Linked DNA regions of Homo sapiens: region 1 is linked to region 2. Evidence: fine-mapped expression QTL. Tissue or cell type: fibroblasts. Region 2 holds a variant in brackets; the other region holds the start of a gene. All regions are shown on one strand. Distances are from middle to middle.

Evidence for each region. PIP is the estimated chance that this variant, and not a neighbour inherited with it, causes the effect.
Region 1: TRMT9B starts here. The variant in region 2 is fine-mapped to the expression of TRMT9B in fibroblasts (GTEx, PIP 0.96).

The regions. Positions count from the first base shown.
Region 1 is chr8:12,940,267-12,951,508 of GRCh38, reverse strand. TRMT9B (tRNA methyltransferase 9B (putative)) reads right to left here and starts at 5,836. Exons shown (of 5, transcript NM_020844.3): 1 at 5,543-5,836. RefSeq lists enhancers at 142-642, 9,080-9,619.
Region 2 is chr8:12,995,187-13,006,428 of GRCh38, reverse strand. It overlaps TRMT9B (tRNA methyltransferase 9B (putative)), which reads right to left. Exons shown (of 5, transcript NM_020844.3): 3 at 73-227. The coding sequence starts at 226. All of the region lies in intron 4 of LOC124901889 (a long non-coding RNA gene), which reads left to right. Among named protein-coding and RNA genes, the nearest start is that of TRMT9B, 55 kb to the right of the region's middle. RefSeq lists a silencer at 35-329. The variant T/C (reference allele first, on the strand shown) is at 4,430.

The sequences.
Region 1 (11,242 bases), 55 kb after region 2:
GACGGGGTGACCTTCCGGCCTCCAGCCGTGCCCTTGTTGCCTGCCTCTCTCGGCGTGGCCCTTCCTGCGTAGGAGAAGACGCCCCGGCGGGAGCACCTGGTCGGCCCGCAGCGCATCAGCGCAGTACCTTGGGTGACGACGACGCTTGGCTTTAGCGCGGCTCTTCTCACTTAATTTTTTACAGCCCCGGACTTCAGCGGAAATGCCCCCTCGGGGTCGGTTCATTGGGATAACTGGAGATGGGGGGGTTAAGTAGGGTGCCACGGCTTAGACGCTCCAAATCATTCCACTACACAACATGCCTAATCTGCTGAGTTTTGCAAAACGAGCCCCATCAAAAAAGCATCCATCAGAAGGCGGGGTGGAACTTAGAAGTTTTTGCCCAAAACTGGACACAAACCTTTCCTCCCCCCATTGCTTCTATGACAATAGCGTTAACTACTTTCTTCCAGGTCCCTAACGTAATAGTATCTTCAACCGCCTATTATCAAACAACTCCGTTATCATCAGGGATCTATGCACTTTAAAAATGCACGTTCTTAGTGACGAAAAATGAGCACATTTAGTAACCGCTCTGCCGCCCTTTGTATAGAGGTTCGTGCTCCTGATCCCCAGCGTAGGGGGCAGAGTTCATGTCGAGCTGTTGTTTCCAGTTCAGGTTATTTATGGGGACCCAACTACAGGTCTCACATAGACGCTGGTCTATAACAGGTTATTTGTGAGGACACAACTACAGGTCTCACATAGACGCTGGTCTATTTCAGGTGCTACTAAGAGGGCTAATGGACGTCAGCATATAGTTTCTGATTCTGGAATCGTTTTCTAGTGCCACAGTATATTGGGTGGGGTGGAGTGGGGGAAACCTTTGTTTGGGCTTCTCTTTATCCTCATGCCCTGGATAATCAGACTGACATTTTCTTTTTCTGTAAAGGCCTCACATTCAAAAAGAAAGAAAGAAAGAAAGAAAGAAAAAACCACGAGTCTGGTTTTACGTATTCTTGAGCTGAATGCCAGCTACAGAAATGCAGCAGCTCATCCTTGCTTCCATTCACTGGAGCTACAACTACAATATGTCTTCGGACACAGAAGACGTATTGGATACTGTGATGTTCCTTGTCCTCTTCTAACAGTGCATTAGGAGACAAAGCATACCTAAAGTATAGGATAGTGCCTGGCAAATAGTAGGACCTGATAAATACTCGTCCAGTGATTGAAAGACTGTGATAAACAGGAAAGTAACCTACCTTAACTTTTGTAGGAAAACATAAGGGAAATCAGTTATAGGTGACATTGTCAGGGAAGGCATCCTGGAAGTGGTGTCCAATGTCTGATTTAGATATAAAAAATTGGCTAAGGACTAGGTGAGGTGGCTCATGCCTGTTATTCCAGCAGTTTGGGAGGCTGAGGTGGGAGGATCGCTTGAGGCCAGGAGTTTGAGACCAGCTTGGGCAACATAGTGAAACCTCATTTCTGAAAGAAATACAAAACATTAGCTGGGCGTGGTGGTGCATGCCTATGATCCCAGCCATTCAGGAGGTTGAGGCAGGAGGGTCACTTGAGCCCAGAAGCTTGAAGTTGCAGTGAGCTGTGCTTGCACCACTGCATTCCAGCCTGGGTGACAGAGAACCTATCTCAAAATAAGTAAATAAATAAATAGAATTAACTAGGGAGTGGAAGTGAGAAAGTATATTTGATATGCTTTCAAGACATAATAGAGGCAGAGATTCTTAACCTTTTGTAGGTAATAGGCCCCTATGAAAATGTTGATAGAAGCTTTGAAACCCCCTTATATAATAAACAAATGTAAAATATTTGCATTTGTTTTCTGAAAGTTCACTGACGGCTTGAAGCAGACATGTAGAATCCCTAGAGACTTGTGAACTATGACATGAGTTACCAACTTCTTTCTTGTTTGGAGGCAGGTAGAAAAATAAAGAGATTTTTCTAGTTGAGGCCATCATAAGCGGCATTTCAGTGACCACCAGTAGAATTTGGGTAATGGTTGTGGGAAAGGAAAGAAAAATGTACTGTAAAGAAAATTTGTACACCAGAGAAACATAGCTAGACTTTTAAGCCATTTATGTTATTTTTGTACCAGAGAATTTCACTTTCACATCTCAGCAAAAAGGAGGAAAGGATAAAAAATGACTGTCAAAATATTGACAGTTGCTGATGCTGGGTGTACACATGGGGGTTTATTGCATTATTTTCTCATTATTTGTGAGGTTTAACGTTTTTCAGTTTTTTAAAATTTCAGTGGATTTTTACTCTCGGTAGTCATAACCAATCCTATGGCATTTCCTAACTTGAGTTCTTAGAATGGAGATTTTTGTATATAAAAAAAGAAAGAAAGAAAAGAAAAAGAAAACAATACAAACAGGCCAGTGATGCCACACATAAGATTGTTATTAATAAGTAGAGTCTATGTAGAAACAATACGTTTTCTCTGAGGAAGAATTATAAAGTGTGTTGGCCATAGTCTCAACAGAAATTAGACAACTATGAAACGTTGAACACGTGTTTTTCTGGTTTTTTGTTTGTTTGTTTTTGAAACGGAGTCTTGCCCTGTCACCCAGGCTGGAGTGCAGTGGTGCGATCTCGGCTCACTGCAAGCTCCGCCTCCCAGGTTCACGCCATTCTCCTGCCTCAGCCTCCCAAGTAGCGGGGACTACAGGCGCCTGCCACCATGCCCGGCTAAGTTTTTGTATTTTTAGTAGAGATGAGGTTTCACCGTGTTAGCCAGAATGGTCTCGATCTCCTGACCTCGTGATCCACCCGCCTTGGCCTCCCAAAGTGCTGGGATTACAGGCATGAGCCACCGTGCCTGGCCTTCTGTTTTTTTCTAATGTTACACTTAACTTCACTGTGTGTTGCTTAGTTAACTAAGTTTCTTTATCATTACATTTTATTATTATATCATGCATATAATTTATATACTTATATATTATATATTCATATGCAATGTAAATATATATGCAATATGAATATATATTCACATGTATTATATATTTTAATATATTTATATAATATAAATTATTGTATTATGTGTTATATACATACATATATTTATATATAACAGAATATATTATATATATTATATATACAGATGTTCCTTGAATTACGATGGTTCATTTACAATTTTTCAACTTTATGATGATTTGAAAGCAATGCATATTCACAAGAAGTTATACTTCTAGTACTCATACAACCATTGTCTTTCATTTTTACTACAGGATTCAATAAATTACATGAGATATTCAACACTTTATTATAAAATAGGCTTTGTCTTAGATGGTTTTGCCCAATTGCAGGTTAATGTAAGTGTTCTGAGCACATTTTAAGGCTAAGCTAAACCAAGCTATCATGTTCAGTAGGTTAGGTGTGTTAAATGCATTTTACAACACTTTCCATTTACAATGGGTTTATTAGGATGTAACCCCCATCGTAAGTCAAGGAGCAACAGTACTATATAATATTATTATGACCTTTCTCAGTTAACTCAGTTTCTTTATTAGTCAACTCCCTGGGTCTGGCACACACCTCTTAAGGCTACAGATGGCCGGCCATGATTCCTTGAATGCCTGCCTTACTCACTGCCTGTTTCTGAGCAAGGCAGCCCCAATGCTTCCTTATACATAGGCTGCACACTTTCCAAATGTGACCAATTCAATCAACCAAAGGAGCTATCTAGCATGTCCTGTGGACTACAAGGCTGTTGCCTAGCAAAGCATGAAATTTCTCCAGCTTATGTAATAAATACTGCACACCTGAAGTCTCTTAAGTTATGGCATTTAAGTAAGGAATTCACGTAAGTTCTTTTCCTAAAGCTTTTGACCATTATTTTACTTATCCTCATTGGCTATCACAGTCCTTAGCACTTAGAACTCAATGCACATATTTGCATTAATATGCATGTGTTGCCATAAGCCTCAAAATGTGCTGCATGATGCTTATGTCACCATTTCATTCACTTCAGCCTTGACCATCTATTTTATTCAAGGACGTGGTCTAAGGTACTGGCTCTTAGCCATTGAGGGTGCTTACCTATTATTAGCTTAATGGAGACTTACCAAAAAAATTACTGTATTTTTACCCACTTTTCTCCACCTTTCCAAGTCATCCCATATTTTTTTAGTGGTTTTAGCTAGTTTAGCATGATAACATCTTGATGCATAAGGAAGTGGAATCATCACCAGGCTGAATGGTAGACCCGGGTGAGCTTAACTTCAGATTGCAGGAAGAAATTGTGAGGTGTGTTCCAGTCTCTCAGACTGATCTTTAGGAGACTGGAGACAAAATATTCCAACAACAGGGATAGGCAAAGCTCAAGCTTTATGGCCTCATTGGTTTTAAAGGATTCCCCACAGTGACCCAGTCAGAATGGACTGAGAATCAAAGAGCTCACAGCTGTTTATTAGTCAGCACAATTTAGAGACAGACATGCTAACCAAGAGCTGTCTTTGTCATTTTGGGATGTTCACGGGCTGGAGTCCCAGTAGCCATCTCCTAAATCCTAAACCCTTCAGTTCTTCAGCCATTTTGCTGCTAGAAAGTGTGTAGCTGCTGCCTTTATCCAAGGAACTGATATCTTCCACACCTCTGAAACCTGGAAGACCTTCTCAAGGTACATAGGGAACTTCCTGGCATTGGGAATAGGATGGTTTCTTCTCTTATAGGGTTTTATGCACCAAAAAGAGAAATGCCACTTCTTCTCTTTCTTCCTGAACTTTTAAAAAAGTAGTCCTGCCAAGTCTCATCATTTCTCAAGCACCTGTCCTTGGTCCTCTGCTTTTCTCTCTATATAATCTCCCTAGACAACCTCATCCACCTTTCTAACTGCAAGGAAAAACGCTGTGTAGATTTCTCAAAATTCTGTTTCTCTGAATTGGTCTTCTCATAAACCTGCAGATCCCATGCTCTCATCTTGCTTGACATCTCCACCAGGGTGACATCAACACATTCGAACCTGAGGTCCTTCGCCCTCCGTGCACCTAAAGCAGCTGCCCTTTTCTTTCTTCTACAATCTCCGTCCTCCCAGTCACCTGGCACATTCTTAGACTCTGCTTCTTCTTGCCCTTCATAGCCCATGGGTGACCACCGTCTGACAATTTTGTATCTGTACTGCTTTTATTTATCAACTCTGCTCCCTTCTTATTGTTTCTATTCTAGTTCTTTATGTCCCATTACTTCCCACCTAGATGATTACACTAATTGCTTAATCTGCTCTTCTGATTGCCAAGGCCGTCTCTTCCATAAAAGATAATTCCAGACAAAAAGCTATTGTCTAGATTAATCTTTCTGTCCTAAGAATGTATCAGTTCTTGATCTAGATGCTTCTTACATTTATCACTAACCTTTGTATAAAGTATTATTTTATTCAACAAAGATTCATTGCTGAGCAGTCTGTGAGAAAAGCAATGGGGAGCAAAACAGATAAGATATCTACCCTCATGGCACTTATAGTCTCGTGGGATGACAAACATTAATCAACTAATCACAAATATCACAACTAAAATGTGCAACCCCAAATTGCAACACATACCTTGAAGGAAGACTGCAGAGTTGCTAGGAGAGCTCACAGGTTTCATCACTTTCCCAGAGGGAGGACTGTGTAGGATTCAGCCTTAGATCCTGAAAGTCTAGTCCAGAGCCCTGCACATGGAAGTACTGAATAAGTTGAAGGAACATATGCATCAAGAAAAAAAATTCAAAACAAACTAACAAAAAACACAAAAAATGAAAAAAGAATAAAACAAAGAAAAAAAGCCAAAAGAACATGTGCATCTACTTCTGACATATACATGTGTGATCTTTTCTGTACTACACAATACTGAATAAAACACACACCGGATGTTCCCTCAAATACTGACCTCAACACATAGCCACGTTAGCTGTTTGCTTTTGTTTCCATGACCACATGTCCATGGGGCATCTAATCTCTAAATACACCCTATTTTCTTTGCCAGCATGACAACATGTAGAAACTTGTTATCCTGGTAGCATTACCAAGAATAATTGTTGCTTTATGGTGAAAGTTTTTAGGCATGCTTTAATACTTTGCTGTTATCACCAACACAAACCCATCATCCCTCTTCCCTACAGTTTGGAATGTTTGCTGAAGATGTCAAACAACATTGTTTCTTTTGCCCCTTGGGAAACTGGTTCATCCTCCAGCTGTCCTTTGTGTCATTCGCCAGCTTCCTCTCCATTTCCAAAGCTGTTTGAGTATTACCTCTTCATCCTCATGCTCTTACCTTTTGTCTGTCACTCTTTCATCATTCTGCTATTATGATCACGTAATTTTTGGAGTCAGCTTTTCGCTGGAACACTGAGTGACACATATCACTTGGCTTATTTTATCTCTTTTTTTTTCTTTTTACAATACTATTAGATAATTTGTTTCAAGAAGCACTTTTGTGCATAGAATCTCAGGTCTGATTTGGGTGTGTGTGTTGTTTGTTTCCAGCTTTGAATGAACAAGGACTGGAAAAGATGAGCTTATTTGTCATGGTAGGAAAAGAAAAACTGCAAAAAAATACAATAAATTTCACCAACAGAGAATGTGTTATATAAATAAGGGAGCAACTACATGTTAAAAAATGCAGAGCCATGATCCTGAAGACAATTTAATGACCTGGAGATACAATGCAGTGTTAAATAAAAAGCAGTTTCACCCCAATATTTTAACATTATATAGTATATTTACATATATGTAGGGGAAAATGCTGGACAACCATACAAAAATGTGACTAGTGATTTTCTCTAGGTGATGGAATTTTATTTTCATATATATATATATATATATATATATACTTTTTTTTTTGAGAGAGGCAGACTTGCTCTGTCCCTCAGGCTGGAGTGCAGTGGTGCAATCTCAGCTCACTGTAATCTCTGACTCCCAGGTTCGAGTGATTCTCCTTCCTCAGCCTCCCAAGTAGCTGGAATTACAGGCGCGTGCCACCAGGCCTGGTTAATTTTTTTGTATTTTTAGTAGAGACAGGGTTTCACCATGTTGGTCAGGCTGGTTTCAAACTCCTGACCTCAGGTGATCCACCCACTTTGGCCCCCCAAAGCGCTGGGATTACAGGCATGAGCCACCACACCTGGCCTCTTCTATATATTTTTTAAAGGGAAGGGGATTCTATGCAGTTTGCGAGCAAAGCATATCCCTATTTATAGCCACAACTCTTGTCTCATAAATTTTATTGCTATTTCATCACTGCTCTTACCAATGAAATATGTGAGGAGCAGTACCAACATAGTACTCTTTCGTTCTCTTTATTATTATTTTAAATTCTCAAGTGCAAAAGTACGAGAAAGTCCAATTGTTTCAAGTGTAGAAGTCACAATGACCTCATCATTCTCACCGTAAAAAGCTATTTTATGTCTATGTCAAAAATAAATTACCTATTGTATTTACATCCTGTTTTTTAGGTGAAGGCAAATGTTGGCTCCCTGGCTAAGTGTCTTGATGAGATCTACCTATTAGTAATGGTAATCTTGGGTTTGTATGACAGTCAGCTCTAGGAAAAATGGAGAAATAGGGTCACTCTGTGTGTGTGTGTGTGTGTGTGTGTGTGCATTATGTGCACTTGTGCACTCACCTGTGCTCGTGTCATCCCTAGAGATTTGATTCTGGGGAAAACAAAGGGTGAATTTTGAGATAGTTGGTTTTTATTTTTCTCTGGAGATATATTTTGAACTTTTTGGGGGATACAAGTTTTGAGATATTTTCAAATAAATTAATACTTAAGATTAGATCCTAATGTATGTTACTAGAAGTTAACGCATTGTAAAATAGTTTCAGAAAGCTGTGCCATAAGAAAATTTTGTTCGAAAACTATTTGCAATTGTCAAAGCACAGCTCTTATCTTCTGAGAGCAAGCAAGACAATACTAATCTTCTTCAGCCTTCCTCTCAGAGTTCAAATAACCCGAGTTCTGTGACACTGATCTTAATCAAGACCTCTGGGCCTTAAATTACTTATCTAAAAAGAGAGAGCATTGAGTCAGATAATCACTGAGATCACCCACGATTCTTAAAAGAAAATGCATTTTTGCTTAGATCTGGAGTGAAAATCATTCCATTGTAAAAAGCTATTTTATGTCTATGTCAAAAATAAATTACCTATTGTATTTACATTCTGTTTGTTAGGTGAAGGCAAATGTTGGCTCCCTGGCTAAGTGTCTTGATTATATCTACCTATTCGTAATGGTAATCTTGGGTTTGTGTGAAAGTCAGCTCTAGGAAAAATGGAGAAATAGGGTCACTCTGTGTGTGTGTGTGTGTGTGTGCATTGTGTGTACTTGTGCACTCACCTGTGCTCATGTCATCCCTAGAGATTTGTAGAGTTGTAAAATAAAGAAGGAATTTGGTGCTTTCTTTATTGCATCCATTTATGATCTAAAGGTTCAGTAGGAAAATTTCCCATTTTCCAAGCTGCATTTCAAAAGGCTGGGTATGGAGTTAATAGTTGGTAGAAGCTTCTATTTAATTCATCCGAAAAATTTAGGAAGAACTTGTGAGATGGAAGAGGAAGGAGACTTATTCTGAGATGCTCCAGAGGGCAGACTTGGACCAGTGAATGCAAGTTACGGGGAAGAACATTTAGACTCAACTAGAGGAAGAGATTTCTAAAGTTTGAACTGCATAAAAGCAGAGCTTTTGCAAGAGGCACAACTCTTTGTCTCTGGATCGGCAGAGGAAGAGGGCAGCTCGTTTACTGGTGATGTTTGTAGAGGGTACCCATACATCAGACAGGAAGTCGTGTCAGACACCTCAATGTCCCCTCCTGGGCTGGGGTTCTTTGATGTGATATGACAATGTACTTTGGCAAATGGCAGAATACACAGTCTTTTCAGGTGTTTGGACAAAGAATGAGCCTAGTATTTTCACAACACAGGCTTTGCAGCTCTTATTTCTCTTTCCTGCTCCGATGGTGTCACCTTCTGTACTGGTGATGAAACTGGTTATGTTTGGAATAGGAGTCAAGTCAAGGTATAAATAACGCGAGAAAGAGATGGCAAAGATTGGTTTCATCCAATTTATTTGAAGGATCCAGCTGAGACCAGAACAGGGAATCCGCCTTGGAGACCATGAAAAAATGTTTTCATGGATAATCCAGGAAAATGGCGTCCTAGTTTCGGCATAAGACTGCACATACCTGTTGAACTGGAATTTGTACTTTCTTCTTCCCATTTAATGTGAAAGAAGAAAAGGAAACAGAATAAGCAAATGAGAAAGAAAAGAAACTTTATCCGAGGAATGCAAGCCTCCTGTAAATGATCAGGCCCAGAGAGGCAAGGGAATGAGGCAGCAGTCAGGCCCCACTTCTCCCCTGGAGCTAAGCTAATCATCTCTTGAATCTGCTTGCTCTAGACTGACTGTCGCCACAAGTAGCTGTAAATTAACCTAACAATGCCATGCACTGGACACCATAACTAATATCCTATAGTTCAAAAATATATAGCTAATTACTAATCATTGTCATTTCTGTTAACCAATGGGAATTCCTGACAACTTGTCTGCCTTGTTGCCTTTAAAAACCTGCTTGTAAGAAAGGTTGAATGAAGCTCATATCCAAAGTTACTTGGGTCTGAGTCTTTCAGGCAGCTGTCCTCATCTTGGCTCAAGTAAACGCTTTAAAATTATATTTTGTGCCTTAGCTTCTTCCATGAGGTTGCCACAAATAACAATTATCAGTAGAAAGATGACTAGAAGCATTTTAAAAATCCAACTGAGCAGTCAAAACAGGCACTAAAGGTCAGAGAAGTTATTTTTTTCTTGTAGTTTGTCTAAAAGAAAAATAAATTACCATCAGGAAACAAAAACAACAAAACGGGAGAAAATGCCATTCGCAGGAGAAGATTGCAGGTGAAATAGCACAGAGGTTGAAGTCACTGCTCAGGGCCAGACGGGTGGGAAGTTTCCTTGGCTCGTCCTTTATTTATTTATTTATTTATTTATTTATTTATTTATTTATTTATTTTTAAATTATACTTTTAAGTTCTAGGGTACATGTGCGCAACGTGCAGGTTTGTTACATATGTATCCATGTGCCATCTTGCTGTGCTGCACCCATTAACTCGTCATTTACATTAGGTATATCTCCTAATGCTATCCCTCCCCACTCCCCCAACCCCACGACAGGCCCCAGTGTGTGATGTTCCCCTTCCTGTGTCCACGTGTTCTCATTGTTCAATTCCCACCTATGAGTGAGAACATGCAGTGTTTGGTTTTCTGTCCTTGCGATAGTTTGCTCAGAATGATGGTTTCCAGCTTCATCCATGTCCCTAGAAAGGACATGAACTCATCGTTTTTTTATGGCTGCATAGTATTCCATGGTGTATATATGCCACATTTTCTTAATCCAGTCTATCATTGTTGGACATTTCGGTTGGTTCCAAGTGTTTGCTATTGTGAATAGTGCCGCGATAAATATACGTGTTCATGTGTCTTTAAAGCGACATGATTTATAATCCTTTTGGTATATACCCAGTAATGGGATGGCTGGGTCACATGGTATTTCTAGTTCTAGATCTTTGAGGAATCACCACACTGTCTTCCACAATGGTTGAACTAGTTTACAGTCCCACCAACAGTGTAAAAGTGTTCCTATTTCTCCACATCCTCTCCAGCATCTATTGTTTCCTGACGTTTTAATGATAGCCATTCTAACTGGTGTGAGATGGTATCTCACTGTGGTTTTGATTTGCATTTCTCCGATGGCCCATCACTTTCTTAATTGCAGGAGAGAATTCATCCATGATTTTGGACAGTGGCTCTTTTCTTTCCCCACAGCAAAGCTTTTCTACATTTACTATTCAGGACGTATACAGGCAACTGTAAGGTAACATAGGTCACTTCTCTCAATTCTATCTGATTACAAATCGGATCAGCATAACCTGGAGCACACAATTTAAGAAAAATGTCAAGCACAATTTTCCTATATTCAAACTTAATACATGTTAAAAGAAAATTTTGTTTACACAAAGTTTAACTTGTAATTTTGTAATCAAGATTCAAGAAATGTTCATGCACACTGTTTAGCCAAAAAAAAAAAAAAAAAAAAAAGGCAGGCAGGCACAGAGGCTCACACCTGTAATCCCAGCACTTCGGGAGGCCGAGGTGGGGCAGATCACTTGAGCCCAGGAGTTCAAGACCAGCCTGGGCAACATAGTGAAACTCTGCCTCTACCAAAACACACACACACACACACACACACACACACACACGTACACAC
Region 2 (11,242 bases):
GGCTGCCTGGTTACCTATGTCAGCGATGAGGCTGCCTGGTTACCTATGTCAGCGATGAGGCTGCCTGGTTACCTATGTCAGCGATGAGGCTGCCTGGCTTCTGCTCTTGCAGGAACTGGCGGACACGAGGCCAGGCTTTGCTCTGCAGGTCGCTGAAGTAAGGGGCTGTGCTCTCGTACACATTGTGCACATGCTGCTTCTCCAGCTGGGCGGCTTCATGATCCATCCTGGAGAAAACAGGACCAACCCAAGGCATGCAGGTCAGCCTATGCACCATAGATGGCTGAAGGAGGATGCAGATTTCCTAAAATCTGGAGCCTACAACTGCAAACTCATGCTGTTTGCACACTTTCTTATAAGCTGCAAAGAACAATACCTTCACTATAACCTCGCCATAGTAGCCAAAAGACTAGCAAATGCATGGTTTTTACCTGCCATGTTAAGGAAAACAATTTTGAGAAAGAGCTAATTATTGTGTAATAAGTTCCTGTACAAGATGAATTCTTAATTTTGGAAGCATAGCCAAAATTCTTACCAAATGGTTTACTTTGGATAAGACCATTGTATCTGATGCTAAATAGATTTCAAAATTTCATAACAGGTAGCTCACCATTTCAACCCAATAGCAAAGCGCTATTAATTCTCCCTTTTTAGTGTTTGGGTTCCAGCCATGTCTCTGTATCAGTACTGCTTTTATTTTAGTATAGGTGCCCATTTCTTTACTGAATTACTTCAACAGCTGGCAAAACGGTTCTCTTGCCATTCAATGCTTTTCCCAATTTCAATTACGTCATAATTATTTTTGTAAAATATAGGACTGGTTGTGTTGCTTCTTATTTATTTATTTTTAATTTTTGTGGGTACATAGTAGGTGTATATATTTACGGAGTACATGAGATGTTTTGATACAGGCATGCAAGGCGTAATAATCACATGAGGGAGAATGGGGTGTTCATCACCTCGAGCACTTATCCTTTATGTTACAAACAATCCAATATACTCTTTTAGTCATTTAAAAATGTACAAATAAATTTTTTTTTACTATAGTCACCCTGTTGTCCTAGCAAATACTAGGTCTTATTCTGTTTTTTGTACCCATTAACAATCTCCACTTCCCTCCCACCTCCCCGCTACGCTTTGCAGCCTCTCGTAACCATCCTTCTACTCTCTATAACCATGAGTTCAATTATTTTAATTTTTAGCTGCCACAAATAAGTGAGAACATATGAAGCCTGTCTTTCTGTGCCTGACTGATTTCAGCTAACATAATGACCTCCAGATCCATCCATGTTATTGCGAATGACAGGATTTCTTTTCTTTTCTTTTTCTTTTTTTTTTTTTTTGAGATGCAGTCTCGCTGTATCGCCCAGGCTGGAGTGCAGTGGCATGATCTCGGCTCAGTGTAACCTCTGTAGCAAGTTCCCCCAGGCCGTGGGCAGGTCTAGAGGTGCTGTCTGGGAGCCAGGGACTGCAGTCAAAAACCTTAGAAGTCTACTTGGTGTTCTAGTGTACTGTGGCTGAGCTGGCACTCAAGCCATGAGATGCAGCCCTTCCCACTCTTCCCTCCCCTTTCCAAAGACCCCTTCCCCACTGTGGCCGAGCTGGTACCTAATGTGCAAGGCAAAGTCCCCTTTCCTTGTCCCTCCACTTTTCTTAAGCAGGAGTGTTGCCCCATAGCCACCACAGATGGGAATGTGCTAAGTCGCATCTGGAGCCAGCAAGACTCAGAGTCTCACCCAAGGCCCACAGCGTATTACTTGGGTATCACCGCTGGTTATTCAGGGCCAAAGGGCTCTTTAGTCAGAAGGTGATGGGTCCTGACAGGACTAGGTCCTTCCCTTCAAGACAGCAGGTTGCCTTCTGGCCCAGGGTGTGTCTAGAAATATCATCTGGGGGGTAGGGCCTGAACAGACGGCCTCAGGACTCTGCCTGGGCCCTATCCTACCGCAGCTGAACTGGTATCCAAAATACAAGACAAAATCCTCTTTATTCTTCCCTCTCCTCTCCTCAAGCAGAAGGAAGGGCTCTTTTGGAGCCAGGAGCTGTGCAGCCTGGGTTGGGAGCGGGGTGGTGCAAGCACTCCCTTAGCAGCCCTAGCTGGTGTCTCAGTAGTGGCGTTCCCTCCTCCCCACCTGGTCCACGGGCTCTGAGGCCAGTTCAGCAGGAGGACTCACCTAGGAGCTGCAGTCCTTGGGGCCTACACTGCCTTTCAAGTGTATTTAGTACCCCAGAGCCCTTTAGCCTACAGTGGTGAGGCCTGCCGGAACTCAAGTTCAGACTGCTGGGACCAGCAATTCCCCTCTGGCTAGGGCTGGTTTAAATGCTCCCTCTGTGGGCAGCTGTCAGCTGAGTTCAGCCACATGGCTTTGCTTTCTACTGTGACAGGGCAGCACTGAGTTCGATACGGTGTTTCACAAACGCAGCATTCTCCCTCCCCTAAGCACAGATTCTCTCTGCATGCACATGGCTGCTGCCAGGGAGTTGGAGGAGGGATGGCATGGGCATATCAAGACTGTCTTGCTCACCCTCTTCTGTGCTTCCTTTAGTGATATGAAGTCAAAACCAGGCACTGTGAGCGCTCTCCTGATTTTTGGTTCTTATGTAGGTGCTTTTTTTGTGTGTTAACTCTGGTCCTTGTGGGGAGGGTGGCGGAGTGGGGACACACCATCAGTGGAGCCTTCCATTTAGCCATCTTGCTCCACACTATCCCCCTCAGTTCTTACCTTCAACTTCTTCAGAGGCATTTTATAGCTTGTCCCATTGGGTTCAGCTGGCTTAGGCGGGCACATAAGGCTCTTTCCGATCTGGCCTCACCAGACCTCTTAAGGGTTATTTCTCACCATCTTTCCTCAGCATTAGCCATAATACCCAATGACCCACTGTTTCTCAGCGGTGGCACATTCCCTCTCATCCAGGGGCCTGAACATATGCTATGCTTTACCTGGCTAAATTCTAGTCATTCTTGGAAAAGGCATCATCTCCTCCAGGAAGACTTCCCTGACCTTCCAGGCAGGATAAGGGCAACAGGGAAGGAGTAAGAAAAGCACAAGAGCAGGTCCCGTTTTGGGCTTAACCCTGTAATTATTCTATTCTATTTTGGCATGTGAGTGAGTGGTATCCCAGGGAAGTGGCCAGGGACTCGGGTTGTGGCTTTTACCCATCAGTATGAAAGTATTTTCAATCATTTAAGAACTCATTTGGCCCTACTGATGGCTATCAGCTATTGCATCCCATGCATACCTCTACAGGGATCACATAGTCCTGTAATTGTTGAATTTAGATAAGATATTTTTCTCTGGCAGAGTCTGCTGGAAGACTCTGGAGAACAAGGAGTTGTCTTATTTAATACTGAGTCCCCAGCACTTAGGACACAGCAGACCCCCAGCAAATGATCAAATAAATACACATAGTGAGAATGGAATCTGGCTCTGAGTACAGAGGGTAGTATTGGCTTTGGTTAGCAGAGGGAGTGATCACCCTGAGGAGCTGGGGAAGGGAGGGGACACTACACCTGCAAACTGGCAGATGGGAGTGTAACTGGAGAGAAGATACTGTCCCTGGACAGCCTCTGTCCCCGCACCTCTACCCCTATCCTGGGAAGTGGGAAGTACTTGGGTAAGACGGTGTCTTCCCTGTATGGAGAGAGACTTTGAGACTATGCAAATATTGTTTCTTATTTGCTCACCCACCAGTTTTAGCATCTACCAATGATTCTTGCCCCAATTATTACTACAAGTATCACCGAATGATGATAATATAATTCCATCATTCCTTCCGTTTCAAGGAACAGATATTCAGGATTTACTCTTAAAACGTAATAGGTTGTCTTTAATCAGTATGAACCTACCCACAGCCCCTGCAAAAAATCCTAGCAAACTCCTAACTGAGTATAAATCTAATTTGTGAGGTCTGACTAAACTTCCACCCAAATTGAAACAGCTTATGTTGCACCTTCAACTGAAATTTACGAAGTAAACATATGGCTGGCTATAACTGCCCACACAAGAGAAAAACAGAAACACTGTGTGCTTTTCATTTAAATCAAAATCTCAGTAGATTTTAGTCTATTTACGTTTCCCCTTTCTCAAGGAATCAATCAAGCAATACGTTTTAGAGAACACTAGAACAAGCAAGTTTTTCTTTGTTGCACTTGGAAATGTTAAGTGGTAACCGACATAAACTGGGTTCCTTGCAAATTGCAATTTAAAAATGACTTCAATTTCAAGCTCAGAATTTGTAGTATCTGAACAGCACCCCCAAGATCTTCCCCTAAGTTTTCTATGGCCTCTACTACCATCGGGTAACCTAAAAGATAGTTATTTTTAAGTGTATAAGTAATATAAATCTATTTTGTTTTTCTGATATTTTACAGTTAACTTTATAAACACTGCAGATTTAAATTTTAAATGCTGCGGATTTAAATTTCCTA[T/C]AATAGTTTCCACATGAATTTTATTTATATAAGCAAATTCCTTGTGAGTTTGAAAGTGTGACTAAGCTAATAAGACTAGTACTAAAACAAGAGCACGGGTTTCCAGATGAAGCGAGAGATAAAGGGTTTGGATTAGCCAGGATTCCTAATCTGTGTGCTGTCAAATTCCAGACCCATAAAATAATCCACATAAAAAGTCAGTACTTAAAGCCTCACATTGTGTCCCTCCTTTGAGATTCAAAATGCACACCAGCACACTATGAGTTTTGAAAAATCTTGGAGAAAAGAGTCCCGGTTGATGTTTCAAAAATCTCGCTTTTTTCTCAGAATTATTGGGTCTATAATACTCTTTCTGTCTTTAAACACCTCTTGTCTTTTTAGGAAATAATATTCTGTAGAAGACACTGTGGAAATGTTAATTTAGTGTTTTCCAATTTAAGAATGTCCCCAAAACAAAGCATTTTTCCTGATCATCCTTTTTCATTCATGTAGTTTTAGTGAAGTATGTTATCTACAAATCATAACTTCTAAGATGGTTTATAAAAAGACTAAAAGTATGAGACGGTAAACGTTTTAACTAGGAAGTCAGAAGGATGCGCATCAGAGTTGCTCATCACTGTCGATCCAAGAGAACCTGCTTCTGAGCCTTGTGCCTCCTCTTTCCAGGGATCCCCGCCTCACTGAGTGGACCCAGGTTGAAAACCAGATCTACAGGGAACCAGTCCATGGGTGAGACTGACCCAGTCTTGAGAATTTGAACTAAAAGACCTGAATAGTCAGATGACCACAAGTGGTTGGTTGTGATCACTTGGAGTCTGTGTTAGGGAGTCCATTTTTAGCCATGCACATATGGATGAAGCAAAAGAATATTTTTCTGCAAAATAAATGTAGCTGTAGGGAAAGAAAAACAAGATGAGAATCCGTGATGCTTCATAACATGGTGGGGGGAAAGGCAGAAAGATTGGGGAAGTCTAGTAGATGATATTCTAGTTCTAGTCCCTATGTAGGCTCTAGATAGGGGCTCAGGGTCACTCATCTCCAAGAAACCTGTTCATTTTACAGTACCAGCCTTGCGTCCTGAGGTACTTCATTTCCTAACCTTGAATCTCAAATCCATACCCTGTTCTAGCCCTGAAATATTCTTCACTTGAACTCACTTCTGTTTCTTACAACCACACCTTTCCCAAGGCAGGGAAACTGCTTTTTTAATTAACATTTTGAAATGATTATTTTACACTTTAAATAACTAGCGTGCAAGGATGCTGACACATAGTGTTGTAATATCTTACCTTTATTGCTACTTTTCAAGCAACTTGTAAAGCTTACGAGGTAACCTTAAAACAAACCCCCAAAATTGAATGCTAGCAATCAAAAGAAATCGTAAATGTGATGACAAAAACATAAATGAGACTGAGTAGACAAAGATACAACTAACTTTGCTGGGGGAAGTTGATGTAGGCACAGAAGAGGAGATCCCAGACATTGAATCATCTTTGTTCCTTCCCTTGCCCCACAAACTCTGCCTATTTCCAGCATTTATTTCTTGGAGGATGGAAGAGAGGACAGAAAGTGACAGAAAACTAACAGGAGAGTTAGTGGCCTGGCATGTTTCCAAAGGGTAGAAAAACAAAGAGAAGGACATTGGCAATTCCTGCTACTAGCAACAGGGTTCTACTGAGAAGTCACAAATGTTTAGTTTTCCTTCCCTGGACATGTGATTAGGCTAACATTTTTCTACCTACTTGAATTCAGATAAACCCTAAGTGACTTGCTATGGCATAAACGTCATCTGAAAAGATCAGGATTACCCCACTGTGTTGCTTTCCAAGTTCCCTATCCCTTATCACTGCAATGAAATGTTCCTTGTCCTGGAGGCATCAGCCTGGGTCCCTCAGAACTCTTGATGGAGAGATATCATGGGTATTCTAATCCCACCCACCAAAAGGAATAAAAAGCTCAGTTCATCATATGAACTGTAGAATATCTAGATCATGAAAAAGTGAAAAGTATACATCAGTTTTTATTAGATGACAACTTGTTACCATATAAGTTCCCCCTTTTTTCTTCATAAAGATTAAAAGTTTTCTTTCTCGTAGAGATATATTATAATAAAATTGAGAGAAAACCGGACAGTTTTGCATCCTACTTTTTTGAACTTAATATTGTGAGCCTAGTGGCAACTTCTACCTACAGTCTTCTCCACCTTCTCAAAGAAATATAACCTCTACACTCCCTAATTCCACAGCACTTGAAATATGTCATGTGCTGTAAAGTATTATAATGGCTTAAGTATTTCTACTAGATTCTGAACTTCTAAATAAGAAACAAGATTTCATACACATCTTTGGTTAGCCCATAATATCTAGCACTGGCCCTAAATGTAATAGGTCTAAATACGTTTAGTGAATTCATGAATGATGGAACTCTAGCCAATTCAACAATATTTCTTTTAAATTTTTAAATCATATTTTAACAGTTTTATTTAGGTATAATTGACATATAACAAACTGCATATATTTAAAGTATATAATTTGATGTTTTTACATACATATGTGTGTGCGTATGCGTGTATGTATGTGTGAAACCATCAAGACACTCAAGATAATGACCATATCCTTCCCCCAATAAATCACCCCTCCCATCTTCTCCCACCCTGAACAATCTTTCTTTTTTTTTTTCTTTTCTTTTTTTTTTTTTTTTTGAGATGGAGTCTCCCTCTGTCACCCAGGCTGGAGTGCGATGGCATGATCTTGGCTCACTGCAACCTCCGCCTCCCAGGTTCAAGCGATTCTCCTGCCTCAGCCTCCTGAGTACCTGGAATTATAGGCACGTACCACCATGCCTGGCTAATTTTTGTATTTTTACTAGAGACGGGGTTTCACCCTGTTGGTTAGGCTGGTCTTGAACATCTGACCTCATGATCCACCTGCCTTGGCCTACCAAAGTGCTAGGATTACAGGCGTGAGCCACTGCGCCCAGCCCCTGAACAATCTTTCTTAATGCCATGTTTCTGGGTAAAGAAACAGGGATAGAGAGGTGGACATTAACATATATATCCAACAGCCACAATTTCAAAGGCAACTCTGAGTATTTGATGTGTTGACAAATAAAAGTAAAAAGGTTTTTTCCCAAGTTTTTCCAGCTTCTTAATGATCACTGGAAAGCTATGCACATATTCACACCCAGAGGCAAATAGTAAAAATATTCTGAGGAACTGAAAAGGCTTCCAGGGAAAAGGTTTTTCTACTGTCTCATCAAGGAGATGACACTCTGTACTTGACCCACAGAAATCTAGTGAACTCTGAGAAAGAAGGCTTTGTTTTGTCCCCAAGAGTGGCTCCTTGTCACCAGGGAGGAGGTGCTATAACTAAATGTCCTCAAGACGGTGCTTTTTATACCTGCTCCTCCTAAGAAGTTAGCACAGAGGCCAGGGTAATAGGCTGTAAGCACTTAGCCCTGTCATCAGAAGGGATTTCTCATTTGTTTGTGATGGGAACTTCTATTACCTCTATCTTGAGTTTCTTTCTGTACCACACTTTTGCCTGTAGTGAGTCCTCTATGTTTTAGCTCTATGGAAAACACACGTGGCTTTAGAACAGTTCTGTCTCCAAATACTGACATACATTTATGAATTAAAACCTCTTTCTATCATACAGAACAATAAAGCTTTTAGAGGAAAATACAGAACATCCTCATGACCTTGGAGTAAGTTAAAATTTCTTACAAAGGGTCATATAAAGTGCTAACCATAAGAGGAAAAATAAAGTAGACTATATTAAAATGAAGACACCATGAAGAGAAGGAAAATTCAACCCAGAGTGTGAAGAAGTATTCGTAGTACATACAGATGACAATTGAGTAGTATCCAGAATATAAACAATTCTTACAAATCACAGAGTAATAGAAGACAACACAATTGAAAAATGGGCGAGAGACTTTAACAGACACTTCATAATGGTCAGGAGACGGGCAGGAAACACACACAAAGGGGCTTAACTTCACTAGTATCAGGGAACCGCAAATTTAAGCCACAATAGGATCCCACCACCTATACAAAAGAATGGGTAAAATGGAAAACACAAAGAATATCTAGTGTTGGTGAAAACATGGAATCGGTGAGTTCTAATACACCACTGGAAGAAATGTGAATTGTTTCAATCTGTTTGGAAAACCGCCTGACAGCAACAACTAAAGCTACACATATGCATAGCCTATGGCCCAGCAACCCCACTCTTAAAAGTATATACATATATCCGAAAGAAATGGACACCCATATTCACCAAAAGACATATGCTAGAATATCCAAAGAAGCACTCTTCGAAGTAGCACAAATCTGGAAACTGCACATGTGACCATCATCAGTAAAATGATCAAATAAATTGTGGTATATTCATAGAATGAAATGCTACCAGGGTAGCATGGAAGTTTGCAACCATATGCAACAATATGGATCAGTCCCTATATTAGTCCATTTCGTGTTGCTGTAAAGGAACTCCTGAGCCTGGGTAATTTATAAGGACAAGCAGTTTGTTTGGTTCATGGTTCTACAGGCTGTACAAGCATGGCACCAGCATCTGCTTGGATCCTGGTGAGGCCTCAGGAAGCTGTTACTCATGGTGGAAGGTGACTGAGGAGCACGTGTGTCACAAGGTCAGAGAGGGAGCAAGAGAGAGGGGAGGAGATGCCAGGCTCCTTTAAACAACCAGCTCTCATGTGAACTGATAGAGCAAGAAGTCACCCATTACCATAAGGAGGATGCCAAGCCATTCCTGAGGGATCCACCACCATAACCCGAACACATCCCAATAGTCCCCACCTCCAACATTGGGGGTCACATTTTAACATGAGATTTGGAGGGGACAAACATCCAAATGATATACATTCCACAAATATCATATTAAAAGGGAAGTCCACAAAAGAATACACACTGTTGGATTCCGTTTATGGAAAGTACAAAAACATGAGCCCATAGATAGATCAAAGAAAATAAAAAATAAAATAAAATAAAATAAAATAAAATAAAATAAAATAAAATAAAATAAAATAAAATAAAATAAAATAAAGAAGGTACAAAAACAGATAAAACAAATGTGGGCCATTAGAAGTGGGATAGAGGCTGCCTGGGGTAGCAGCTGGCAGGGAGCACTGGGGGTTGGGAGGTGGTCCTGGGGTGCTGATAATGTTCTGTTTCTTGATCTGGGCTCGGGTTACATGAGGGCGCTCAGGTTATGAAAAATTCATTCATTTATTTGTACATTTATGATATATGCACTTTGGTCCATGTATATTTCAATTAAAACCCCCTTTTGCTTTGAGGCAGTTGCCTTGTTATGTACTTTAAACCATGTTAGAACTTAAAACTGAGCAGAGTATCCTCTCTCATCTGTGTTCTGCCATTCCCATGAGGGATGAATGCCATCCAGTCAGTGCCTTCTGGGCAGCTAGAAATTGGAGATCACTGGGTTCAAAGATCAGGTGAAATGTCAAAGCAGTATCCCCATTCAATAAGATTATGTCATAGTATATACAGAAAGTGCTGAGAGAGTTTTGCCTCAGAAGAAATCTAACTGAAGAAATAAGTAACTTAAATGAGATAATGTCTAATGCCAGATTATCCAGTAACCAGCCAAGAATAGAGTCCATTTGCTCCCAGTAAAGAAGTTGTTTCAGTTAGGGCACCAGGTAAGTGACTCATCAGTATGATGAGAGGAAGGAAATTCATTTTACCTACCTTATATTTGTGATCTTATTACACATTGAATAGCTTTACTCAATAACTCAAAGTGAAATTAAGGATGAATTGTGCCAGCCACAGCTTCCAAGTAGCACAACTATAATAATGTATGAGGATTACTGATCTCAATAAATAGATGGGAACATAAATTGTGTAAAGGTCCAGGAAGGAGGCTACATGATCCTCAGCTTGTAGCAGCAGGTGGTTGCTATTGCTGCTTACCTTCATTCTCTAATTATCTTGCTGTTTCATGGTTACTGTTACTCGTTAAGACAATTTTCAGTTATTTCAGTACCTTATGAAAAATGTATGGACAAACTAGTGTCCTCATTTATTACTCTCATGTGGATCATCTGTGATATTTAGTCTACTGTTTATGTGGCTCTTTATATGTGCAGTTATTGGAAAAATCTGCTGAGCTTTTTAGTCTGCAGAGAATAAAATCTTTCTGAAAAATGTTATAATATTTAAAAGCCTTAGAACCTAAGACAACAATGACTTGGGTCTAATTGGTATCTGGATGGTTAATCTCCCGAAACACACACAACTAATAGATGAATCAGTGTTCCCTCCCAAAAAACCAAACCCAAAACAAAAACAACACAAAGAAGACAAACATGTGTATCAGTAAAGTTTTCTTTATAAAAATCAAGAAAAGGATCAAGACAGAATGACAAGGAAAAGAAGAAAGAAACCAGGGGAAGTGCAAGGAGAAGAAACGGGCAATTAATATATGTATTGAGTGATTATCATGCGGTTCATATATGTTAGTGCAAAGAAAGCCAGAAATGGAGAATAAGGAAAGCAGACAAAGAGCTAAGAGCTATGACTTAATATGTATAAAGAACAGAGAGAAGAAAAGGTAAAAAATATATAACTTTGTATAAATTTGTTTATATCTACTCCAATTAGCACTCAAACTAGATTTATATAATCAAATATCAATTGCTCATTTAACTTTTTACACATTTATCACTAATGGAAATTACATTTTGACTGCTTCTAACTGCAGCTGAAACTTGCTTGAAGCTTTGTGTTAAGAAACTAAAACCCAAAATAATGCCAAAGGTTAACAATTC